Linked DNA regions of Homo sapiens. The protein of the gene in region 3 interacts with the protein of the main gene of each other region in a pairwise test. Each region holds a gene or a part of one and is shown on either strand. Other genes may lie near its edges.

Evidence for each region.
Region 1: the proteins of FARS2 (region 3) and FSD2 interact in binary tests that used the Homo sapiens proteins (3 or more experiments, as listed by UniProt).
Region 2: the proteins of FARS2 (region 3) and HIGD1C interact in binary tests that used the Homo sapiens proteins (3 or more experiments, as listed by UniProt).

What each region holds. Positions count from the first base shown.
Region 1 is NC_000015.10:82,781,926-82,785,580, forward strand, and holds part of FSD2 (fibronectin type III and SPRY domain-containing protein 2), read right to left. Parts: intron 1,101-3,655; coding exon 870-1,100; intron 1-869.
Region 2 is NC_000012.12:50,950,923-50,954,677, reverse strand, and holds the start of HIGD1C (HIG1 domain family member 1C), read right to left. Parts: upstream 2,135-3,755; 5' UTR 1,979-2,134; coding exon of another isoform or gene 1,963-1,978; exon of another isoform or gene 1,474-1,962; coding exon of another isoform or gene 1,419-1,473; exon of another isoform or gene 870-1,418; intron 688-869; coding exon of another isoform or gene 680-687; coding exon 586-679; intron 1-585.
Region 3 is NC_000006.12:5,267,926-5,271,580, reverse strand, and holds part of FARS2 (phenylalanine--tRNA ligase, mitochondrial), read right to left. Parts: intron 1-3,655. UniProt on the Homo sapiens protein: Is responsible for the charging of tRNA(Phe) with phenylalanine in mitochondrial translation.

The DNA.
Region 1 (3,655 bases), on a different chromosome or scaffold from region 3:
TGGTGGCGGGTGCCTGTAATCCCAGCTACTCAGGAGGCTGAGGCAGGAGAATTGCTTGAACCCGGGAGGAAGAGGTTGCAGTGAGCCGAGATCGTGCCACTGCACTCCAGCCTGGGCAACAGAGCGAGACTCCATCTCAAAATAATAATAATAATAATAATAATAATAATAATAATAATAAAACTCTTGGCCGGGCATGGTGGCTCACGCCTGTAATCCCAGCACTTCGGGAGGCCAAGGTGGGCGGATCACGAGTTCAGGAGATCAAGACCATCCTGGCTAACACAGTGAAACCCCGTCTCTACTAAAAATACAAAAAAAAAAATTAGCTGGGCTTGGTGGCGAGCGCCTGTAGTCCCAGCTACTAGGGAGGCTGAGGCAGGAGAATGGCGTGAACCCAGGAGGCAGAGCTGGCGGTGAGCCGAGATCGCGCCACTGCACTCCAGCCTGGGCAACAGAGTGAGACTCCGTCTCAAAAAAACCAAACCAAAACAAAACAAAACAACAACAACAAAAAACTGTTAGAGCACGGTTTTTGCTCAGCTTAGCTCCAGGATGAGGGAACAGGTATCTGGGTGACCAGAACAGAGGAACAAAGACTGGTGCTGCCTCTGCGCTGGGGGAGGGAGAGAGTCTGCGCTGTGAGTCCGCCTGGCCACTCACGTGGAAGCCATGCAGAGAGATTGGGCCACAGCCTCCCCATCACGATCATCCAGTGGAATCAAATGGATGCTGGCCATAAAAGTCGATTCCAATGCCTCCAGGAGGAAAGAGGACAACCTAGCTTACCTCAACCATAACTGTCGTTTCCGTTTATAATTCCATCTCTTTCCATTATGTTCATTATTTCATTTTGTTTCATTACTGACCTTTATGAAATCCACCTTCTCCTCGTGACACATCTCCTCTATTGTTTCCATCAGTTCTTTGCAAGTATCTAGGTTTTCTCCACAGCTGACCAGTTGTCCATATAAGGCTTCCAGCTTCTCTTTCTTTTTCTCCCCTAGAGCTTGTATTTTTTCCTCATATTTTTGAGCAAGTGTTTCCAAGATCTCGTTGTAATGTGACTCAAAGTTTTGTTCTTGTTTTCCAAAATTCTCCTGCAAGACAGTTGATCTCAGTCATCATTTCAGCGCATGTAGTGTGTTGATTAGAGTCTTTTGTTTTTTGTTTTTTTGTTTGTTTGTTTTTGAGACACAGTCTTGCAGTGTTGCCCAGGCTGGAGTACAGTAGTGTGATCTTGGCTCATTGCAACCTCTGCCCCCCAGGTTAAAGTGATTCTCCTGCTTCAGGCTCCTGAGTAGCTGGGATTACAGGTGTGCATCACCATGCCCGGCTAATTTTTGTATTTTTAGTAGAGATGGGGTTTCATCATATTGGCCAGGTTGGTCTTGAACTCCTGACCTCAAGTGATCCGCCTGCCTCAGCCTCCCAAAGTGTTGGGATTACAGGCAAGAGCCACCACGCCCAGCCTGATTAGAGTCATTAGAGAAATGAAAATATGTGCCTATCAGAACTATTTTAGTTCCTCTACTTTGTCCTCTCATCTCTTGTTGGGAGTTGGAATGGAAACTGGAGGTGCTGGAACATAGGTGTCTCCGGCCTAGACTCCAGGAATAATCTAAACAAAAGCACTGCTTTCTCTCCTGGCAGCATTTTGCAATCCAGTTCCAGTTTCAACTACCTTCTATCACCATGACAAGTGACCAGGGAGATTATCAGTGATGATTCTGCCCGATATTGGACCTTAATGTGGAAATATTTTCCCTGAGAGATTCCCATCTATCATTCTCTCCTGAGCTCTTAACATCTCATGAGGCTCCTCTTCACTCCCTGGTGCTTGGATCATACAAATATCAAGATTAAATCAACTAGGATCATATCAACTAGGGGAGAAATGAAGGCAAAGGAGGAACAAGGGTTGTGGTCTGGCGGCACTGCTTACAGATGAGAAGATGCAAGAGGGCAGAGGGAGGGTTCTGACAATATTAATCCAGGAGCACAGTAGATGAGAAATATTAATATTAATAGAGTATATATTGCTTATATTGTCCCCAGAGCTCTGCAAGCTCTGATGGATGTCATCCTCATCAGATGATGGGGACATTTCCAAGGAAGAGGATCTTATCAATCATTCAGGGAGTAATTACTGAACACCTGCTATGTGCACAGGACTTGCTCAGAATGGTGGAAGAGAGAGAAAGGCAATAGATGAACTTCCCAGTGTTGAGTATGAAAGGATGGCCACTGAGGATGAAGGGACTTTGATCTGAGAGTAAGCTGGCAGAGCAGCATGTAAGAAGTTTTTTATTTTATTTTATTTTATTTTATTTTTTTTTTATGGAGCCTCATTTTGCCACCCAGGTTGGAGTGCAGTGGAGCGATCTCAGCTCACTGCAACCTCTGACTCCTGGGTTCAAGTGATTCTCCTGTCTCAGCCTCCCAAGTAGCTGGGATTACAGGCACCCACCACCAAGCCCAACTAATTTTTTTTGTATTTTTAATAGAGATGGGGTTTCACCATCTTGGCTAGGCTGGTCTCGAACTCCTGACCTCAAGTGATCTGCCACCTTGGCCTCCCAAAGTGCTGAAATTACAGGCGTCAGCCACTGTGCCCGGCCAATGTAAGAAGTTTTGTCTTCGATGTTGTACACTTACCCCCTTCTACCACTACCCTATGCTTGGCAGTGGAAGGGTTTGCCACTTCTCTGTATCTTCCATGGGGGATTAGTGCAATAGCTCTCCTCCCTTGTAAGATTGGGGCTGGAAAAGGTCTACCTTCATGGGAAATGGGCCTGGGGCTTCGTTGATTCATATAAGATCCTCCTGTTGGTACCATCCGAAGCTGCATTAATAGAAGTAGAGCATCCGCATGAAGAGAAGAGAGAGGGCAAGTCCTAAGCTCCTCAGTCCTGGTTGACCTCATCTGGAAGGTTGGGTTGAGCTCTGGCATCATAGTGGTTACCATGTATCTACTAGGGCACACACAGGGGACTGTGGCATGTTTGGTGACAGGCATGGAAACTTATTAATCTTATGAGAAATAGATATCAGCTGAGGAAAAGAACACTTACCAAAAACGGGATGGGTATCCTGTAATACCTTGTCAAGGCTGAACCGTGAAAGAGGAGCTAGTCTTATTCTGTGTAGCTCTAGGGGCCAATATGACTAGTGGACAAAAGTTACAGAGCCACACCACACCTTCTATCTCAGTCGTCTTGGCATCTGGATCAAGGCTCACATTCTTACCCATGTCAAGATTGGGAGGGAGAGGGGCTGTCAAAGAATAGAAACTCCTTTCCAATCCTAGAATTCTAAGCTTTTACTGATCTCTCAGAAAAGTCTGGAAATTGCTAACTAGACAAAGGCAATACATTATTTATTTATTTATTTATTTATTTATTTATTTATTTATTTGAGATGGAGTCTCGCTGTGTTGCCCAGGTTGGAGTGCAGTGGTGTGATCTCGGCTCACTGCAACCTCTGCCTCCCGGGTTCCAGCAATTCTCCTGCCTCAGCCTCCCAAGTAGCTGGGACTACAGGCACATGGCACCACACCCAGCTAATTTTTTATTAGTAGTAGAAATGGGATTTCACCATGTTGGCCAGTCTGGTCTCGAACTCCTAACCTCAGGTGATCCACCCGCCTTGGCCT
Region 2 (3,755 bases), on a different chromosome or scaffold from region 3:
CTTGGCTCACCGCAACCTGCACCTCCTGAGCTCAAGCAATCCTCCCACCTCGGCCTCCCAAAGCGCTGGGATTACAGGCATGAGCCACCGTGCCCGGCCTAGAAGCAGAAGTTTTTAATGTGCCCAATAGTAAGATAGAAACAGAAAAATCTATAAACAGAAGATGTAAGAACTTAAAGTTTAGATTACTTACAAGACAAAGAGACATATGCATCTCAATAGTCCCTAATAGGCTTTAAATATAATAAACTGATGCTGCTGTTGATGGTCCTGAGTTATGACTGAAATGTTAATATTCATTCAATCTATTCCATTTGACTGGCTAGGAACTAATAATTTTAGGTAGACTTCTAATGAAATGGATAAAATAGAATAAAATTTGATGCCTCAAATAACAGCTAACATTTACTGGGGGCTTACCATGTATTAGGAACTATTCTGAAAGTTCAACACATGCTTAGAGGAGGTTAGCTTCAATTATCTGAAAAAATTCAATTATAAGAAACATTTCAATCCGCAAAGGCACTGGGTAAGGCATCATTGTGTTATTACAGTTTTCTGCATCCAGTCAAGGCTTGTACTTACCTATAGGGACAAAGGGGGAGTCTCTAGATTTCCTGATTAGTCGGGATAATTGGCCTTCATCCTCATCTGCTGACCACTGGTTATCTGAAGACATTTTTTTCTCTAGTAACAATAGGATATAAATGTGGTTGCCGTGAATCATTAAAAATAATTTGTTTTTCCTCTCCCATCATACTCTTGATTATGTGTTTTTTTGTTTTCATTTGTTTGATAAGCCTATCTGCTCAACTGAAACAATTGTCTTTCCTTCACACTTTTCACTACCGAATTTTTTCATTTTGCAGGGGAAGGGGATAAGAAAAAAATACATAGAGGAAATGATAATCAGATTTCATGAATACAGAGTAAAAACACAGATCATAATGCTGTTATTCAGTCTCCTTTCCACTGCTCAGCATTTGAGATCACTGGGAACCTCAGGACTTCTTCCACAAGCACTGTATTTGAAGAACACATTTTCTTTTTAAAGTATCATTTTAAAGAAGTATGGCAGTGCCAACATAGGCAAAAATACTTCCAGATTTACAGGTATTGGGAGAATGATCACTTCAACTCTGCAGAATGTGCAGGGCATTATAAAGTCATTCAGATATTTACCAAGCACCTACTGTGTGCCAGTTGCTATGCTAGACAATGGATTCCTTGTCTAGCCTGGCTTGTCTACATAGGATGAATGAAGAAACTTGCAAAAGCAACTATAATCACAACAGATTTAGCAGCGCCTGAGTCTGTTCCCTGTGCAGCTTATTGTGTTCACCCCAGAATTCAAATACAGCGGCTTCATCCTATGAATGAGACTTCATCAGAAAACTTAAGCGTAAGAAGCACAATACCTGTGGCACACCCCGCCACCTGCTGTCTGTCTCCTGTTGTTCCTTCAGCAAGAGGCTGTAGATCAGAACAGGTGTTTGTTGTAAGGCCAGGACACGATGTGCAATTTCCAACTAATTGATAATGGGAAAGCCCAGAAACACGCCCCAGGGGACTGGGGGAGTGGTCGGCTGGTATTGGCCAAGATTTCCAGCACCCTGCTAGAAACTCACCAGTAGCAGCCTGGGCCACAAACTAGGCTTTTGAAGCCAACATTAAGAAAAACATGAAGGCTTTGGAAGAAGATGCATTTGCTTAAGTCTGCCTTCACAAGGGAGCTCCTGACTTCCCTCTGTGACTGTTGAGTCTTAGTACCTGACTCCTGGGCCCAAAATTGAGGGGAAAGAGGGCACAGGGTCACAACACTGGGCTTGGAGGGGAAGGGGAGAAGATAGCCATCAGAGGCCAGGATTCTTGCCATCCTTCGGAAACACGCCCTAGCCAGAGGAGGTGCGCTCCCTGCAGTTGGAATCTCCGGCTGAGGCGATGAGAGCCCGCCGGGCTCACCTGGCGGTAAGGCCATCGCAGGTGCGCCTCCTGCAAAGCCTCGAGCTGCACACGCGCCCAGGGGAAAGACGTGACGTTGCTGCACCTGTGGCTAGTCCCTGCGCCTGTGTGTGAGACCTGAGTGGGGCTGTGGAGACCCGAGAGGCTGTGGCTCTTGAGGTGGGTCGGTGGTGGACGTGGCCTTTGCTTCTGTTCTGACCTTGTAGCCTTGGGGCCCCTTGAGACCTTGGAGAACACCTTGCTCACCGCCTCCCTCCGACTGCAGCCATGTGGACCTAGAGATGAGGGCAGAGGATCAGGTAGCGTTCATGGTTTTTCCCTTGTAACTTAATGTTTAAATAATTTCAGACTTATAGAAAAGTCCCCAGAATAGTACAAAGAACTGTGTGTCTGGTACCCGCATTTTCCTTTATTAACATGTTTCTTTCTTTAAAAAATATTTTTGGCGAACCACCTGACAGTAGCAGACTTATGCCTTTTCTTCCATATACTTTTGTATGCATTTGGGGCATTCTTTTATTATATAACCATAGTACAGTGTTCAAAATCAGAAACTTAACATTGATATAATTCTGTTTTTCAATCTAAAGATTTTATTCATATTCACCAGTTGTCCCAATTATGTCCTTAATAGCAAAAAAAAAAAAAAAAAAAAATTTCTGGTCTAGCATCCAATTAGGATCATATATTGCATTTAGTTGTCCTGTTTCTTTAGTCTCCTTTAGTCTGAAACACCTTCCTAATCATCTTTGTCTGTCTTGACCTTGATTTTTTTTTCTTTTTTTTTTTTTTTGAGATGGAGTTTCGCTCTTGTCACCCTGGCTGGAGTGTGATGGCGCAATCTTGGCTCACTGCAACCTCTGTCTCCTTGGTTCAAGCAATTCTCCTGCCTCAGCCTCCCGAGTAGCTAGGACTATAGAAGCGCCACACCACGCCCGGCTAATTTTTTTGTATTTTTAGTAGAGATTTTGTTTCACAATGTTGGTCGGGCTGGTCTCAAACCCCTGATCTCAGGTGATCCACCCACCTTGGCCTCCCAAAAGTGCTGAAATTACAGGTGTGAGCCACCGCGCCCAGCCGACCTTGATGTTTTGCCAGTTATTTTGTAGGATGCCTCTCAATCTAATCCTGTGTTCCCGTCCCCTCCCCCAACTCATGTTTTCTCACTAGATTGAGGTCATACATTTTGGGCAGAATATGACAAAAATGATGTTGTGCTCTTCTTAGTGTGAAATATCAGGAGACACAGAAAGTTGAATTGCCTGGTGGTAGTTAACTTTGATCCAGTGTGGTGCTGACAAATGTTTAACAACTCAACTGGCTCTGGAGGGGGAGATATTGCCCTGTTCTGTGGCATTTGCCATTGCCCCATTCTGTGTTGTAAATATTCCCACCATGCCCAATTTCTAAATAGAGTCTGTCATCACGGAACACAAAGTTGGGAAATGTCCCTTTCCTGGGTTGGTAGGAATGGGCTCTAGCACACCACTGCTTTCATCATGTGGATTAACGTGGTGTCTGCCTGGTTCTCCACTGTGGTTACTTTTTTTTCTCCCTTTTAATTAATAAGTAGTTTCTGAACAGGTACTTTAATATTATACAAATATCCTGTTATTTGTCAGACTTTTACCCATTAATTTCAGTGTCTGTTGATGATCCTTGCTTGAATCCATTAATTTTAGTTTGCTAAATGGTGGTTTTTCTAAATATATCACCTTAAAAAAAAACTTATGGCCGGGCGCGGTGGCTCATGCCTGTAATCCCAGCACTTTGGGAAGCCAAGCAAGGCAGGT
Region 3 (3,655 bases):
AAAAAAAAAAAAAAAAAAAACAGACATAGTCTCTGTTCTTATACACAGCCTAATATCACAAAAAAATTAATCAAATAAAAAAATATAACTCTGGCAAGATTGCTCTAGTGAACTTTGTTCCTTTTACAAAAAATAATTCCCCTTTATCTCTAGGAGCTAGGCAACTGGTTCAAGACCAAAAGAATCCTATCTTCTCCCTGGTCACAGTTATTGGTTCAGAAATGGATGAGGACATGACACAAGGAGGGCCAGTGACATGAACGGAGAGGACTGCTGAGCACTCTTGGTCCAGAAGCTCTCTCACTCCTCTAAGGTTTTGGAAACAAGCGCCCCCAAACTGTTGATGGTTTCCCATAACCGAGAGAGAGGACTCTGGCCAGACGATAAAATTTACGTTAGAGAAGACAAAGTAGAGAAAAGCACAAAATTGAATCTTTGGCAACATCACTCAAACCAATCAACCCTAAAGCCCATCTGGCTTCTGAACCCTCAAGACACAGGAGACAATAAAGCCACTAGGTTTGTTTAAAACAATTTGACTTCAGTTACTTGCAATGGCAGTCACTCTAAGCTGAAGAGCAATTCACCATACTAAGGGAGCTTAACAGAGGAAGATGTACTCAAGTTAGAGAAGGTAGCTTTGAGTAAGCATCTCTTAAACTGAGATCAGAAGAATAATTAGCAAGGGAAGGAAGGGCACTCCAGGCAGCTGGATCAGCATTTGCAAAGGTCCCCAGGGTAGAGGGGAAAGAGGTGAGTACTAAAGAATGAAAAGCAGCAAGCGAAAAATAAAAAGGTATGACATGGGACTGGAGAAGTGGGTAAGCGCCATAGTCGTCAGGGTCTCATAGGCTGTGTTAAGGAATTAGACTTCATCCTAAAAGTGCTGCAGGTTTTTGGAGAGAAGGTGATATAAAAATTACTGTCTATAGTGTGGTGACATTAATTCATATATATCTAAGGAACATACCTGACCACCAGTACTATAATGAACATTTCATTTTCAAATAGCTTTCAAGACAACAGAAAAATTTCAGCAAACACTGTAACTTGACACACGTGGAATCTCTTCTACAAAGTTAACAGAAGGGCATCCAGACAGCTTGACAGCTCTAGCGAACCACACTTATGTCCTGAAACGTATTAATCTGGGATAGTTTACTTGGAAATTATTTGAAGACCTGGGCTCTACAAATGAAAGCTGACTGTAATTATCATCCAGCCCAGCTCTCACAGTACGCAGAAGCCAAGGGTGTAAGTGGGATTCCTAACAGGGCTTAATGTTATGAATGCCCAGGCACATGTGCTTGTCTCAAAGTGCTCCAAGACTTGAAATAAATAACAATGTGCTTATCTCAGAACGTCAAGAAACAGGAAAGAAAGTATGCTGCCTGCTAAGCTTTTTCTATTTCATGACTGCTTCATTTTACTTTCCCTTTGCACTGCAGAATTCCAGGAATTGATTTAAAAAAAGATAATTCTCCCAAAAAACTCATCTTCATTAACTGAAACTAACTGTTTTACTCTCTGCCAATATTACTGTAATCCATTTCACAGAAGCCAGGCTTTTATAACTCTTAAATATTGTTAGTTAACTCAAACTCACAATTACACATACAGATTACAAGTTTGCCAGGCTGAAGTGCTTCAATTGTGCTCAGAAAATAAATGTTTACATTAAAACGTTATAAAATATTAAATCATGTAATTCACTATAATACCAAAGAAATCATGAATTCTCTGTATATCTTCTATTGTTAATAACAGTCTACAGTATACTATCAACGATATGTATCGACCCATCCTCTGAGAGATCAGTTAACATCACAGATCTCAGTATTGCACATCTTAAGACACTGACCTAGTATTTTTCCAGTGATTAGCAAAATGTAGGCTGTTTTTTGTAAACAGACTCAACACTGCAAATTCTAAATGTTTTCTGTAAACAACCTACTGACCTGAACAAACAAGAGATGGCGGCTAATACACTCATTCGAAGAAGTCAATCAGAACTTCAAATATGTCACTAGAAAAATTACTAAAATGAGATACTGCTAAACAGCAATGAAAGGACTCTTCTTTTCTCTTTTTTTTTTTTTGGTTATTTTCATTTTTTTTTTTATTATACTTTAAGTTCTAGGGTACATGTGCACAAGGTGCAGGTTTGTTACATATGTACACATGTGCCATGCTGGCATTAGGTATATCTCCTAATGCTATCCCTCCCCCCTCCCCCAACCCCACCACAGGCCCCGGTGTGCGATGTTCCCCATCCTGTGTCCAAGTGTTCTCGTTGTTCAATTCCCACCTATGAGTGAGAACATGCGGTGTTTGGTTTTCTGTCCTTGCGATAGTTTGCTCAGAATGATGGTTTCCAGCTTCATCCATGTCCCTACAAAGGGCATGAACTCATCCGTTTTTATGGCTGCATAGTATTCCATGGTGTATATGTGCCACATTTTCTTAATCCAGTCTATCATTGATGGACATTTGGGTTGGTTCCAAGTCTTTGCTATTGTGAACAGTGCTGCAATAAACACATGTGTGCATGTGTCTTTACAGAGCATAATTTATAATCCTTTGGGTATATACCCAGTAATGAGATTGCCGGGTGAAATGGTATTTCTAGTTCTAATACCTAGGAATCCAACCTACAAGGGATGTGAAGGACCTCTTCAAGGAGAACTACAAACCACTGCTCAATGAAATAAAAGAGGACACAAACAAATGGAAGAACATTCCATGCTCATGGATAGGAAGAATCAATATCGTGAAAATGGCCATACTGCCCAAGGTAATTTATAGATTCAGTGCCATCCCCATCAAGCTACCAATGACTTTCTTCACAGAATTGGAAAAAACTACTTTAAAGTTCATATGACCCAAAAAAGAGCCCGCATTGCCAAGTCAATCCTAAGCAAAAAGAACAAAGCTAGAGGCATCACGCTACCTGACTTCAAACTATACTACCAGGCTACAATAACCAAAACAGCATGGTACTGTTACCAAAACAGAGATATAGATCAACGGAACAGAACAGAGCCCTCAGAAATAATACCACACATCTACAACCATCTGATCTTTAACAAACCTGACAAAAATAAGAAATGGGGAAAGGATTCCCTATTTAATAAATGGTGCTGGGAAAACTGGCTAGCCATATGTAGAAGCTGAAACTGGATCCCTTCCTTACACCTTATACAAAAATTAATGTGAGATGGATTAAAGACTTAAATGTTAGACCTAAAACCATAAAAACCCTAGAAGAAAACCTAGGCAATACCATTCAGGACATAGGCATGGGCAAGGACTTCGTGTCTAAAACACCAAAAGCAATGGCAACAAAAGCCAAAATTGACAAATGGGATCTAATTAAACTAAAGAGCTTCTGCACAGCAAAAGAAACTACCATCAGAGTGAACAGGCAACCTACAGAATGGGAGAAAATTTTTGCAATCTATCCATCTGACAAAGGGCTAATATCCAGAATCTACAAAGAACTTAAACAAATTTACAAGAAAAAAATCAAACAACCCCATCAAAAAGTGGGCGAAGGATATGAACAGACACTTCTCAAAAGAAGACATTTATGCAGCCAAAAAACACATGAAAAAATGCTCATCATCACTGGCCATCAGAGAAATGCAAATCAAAA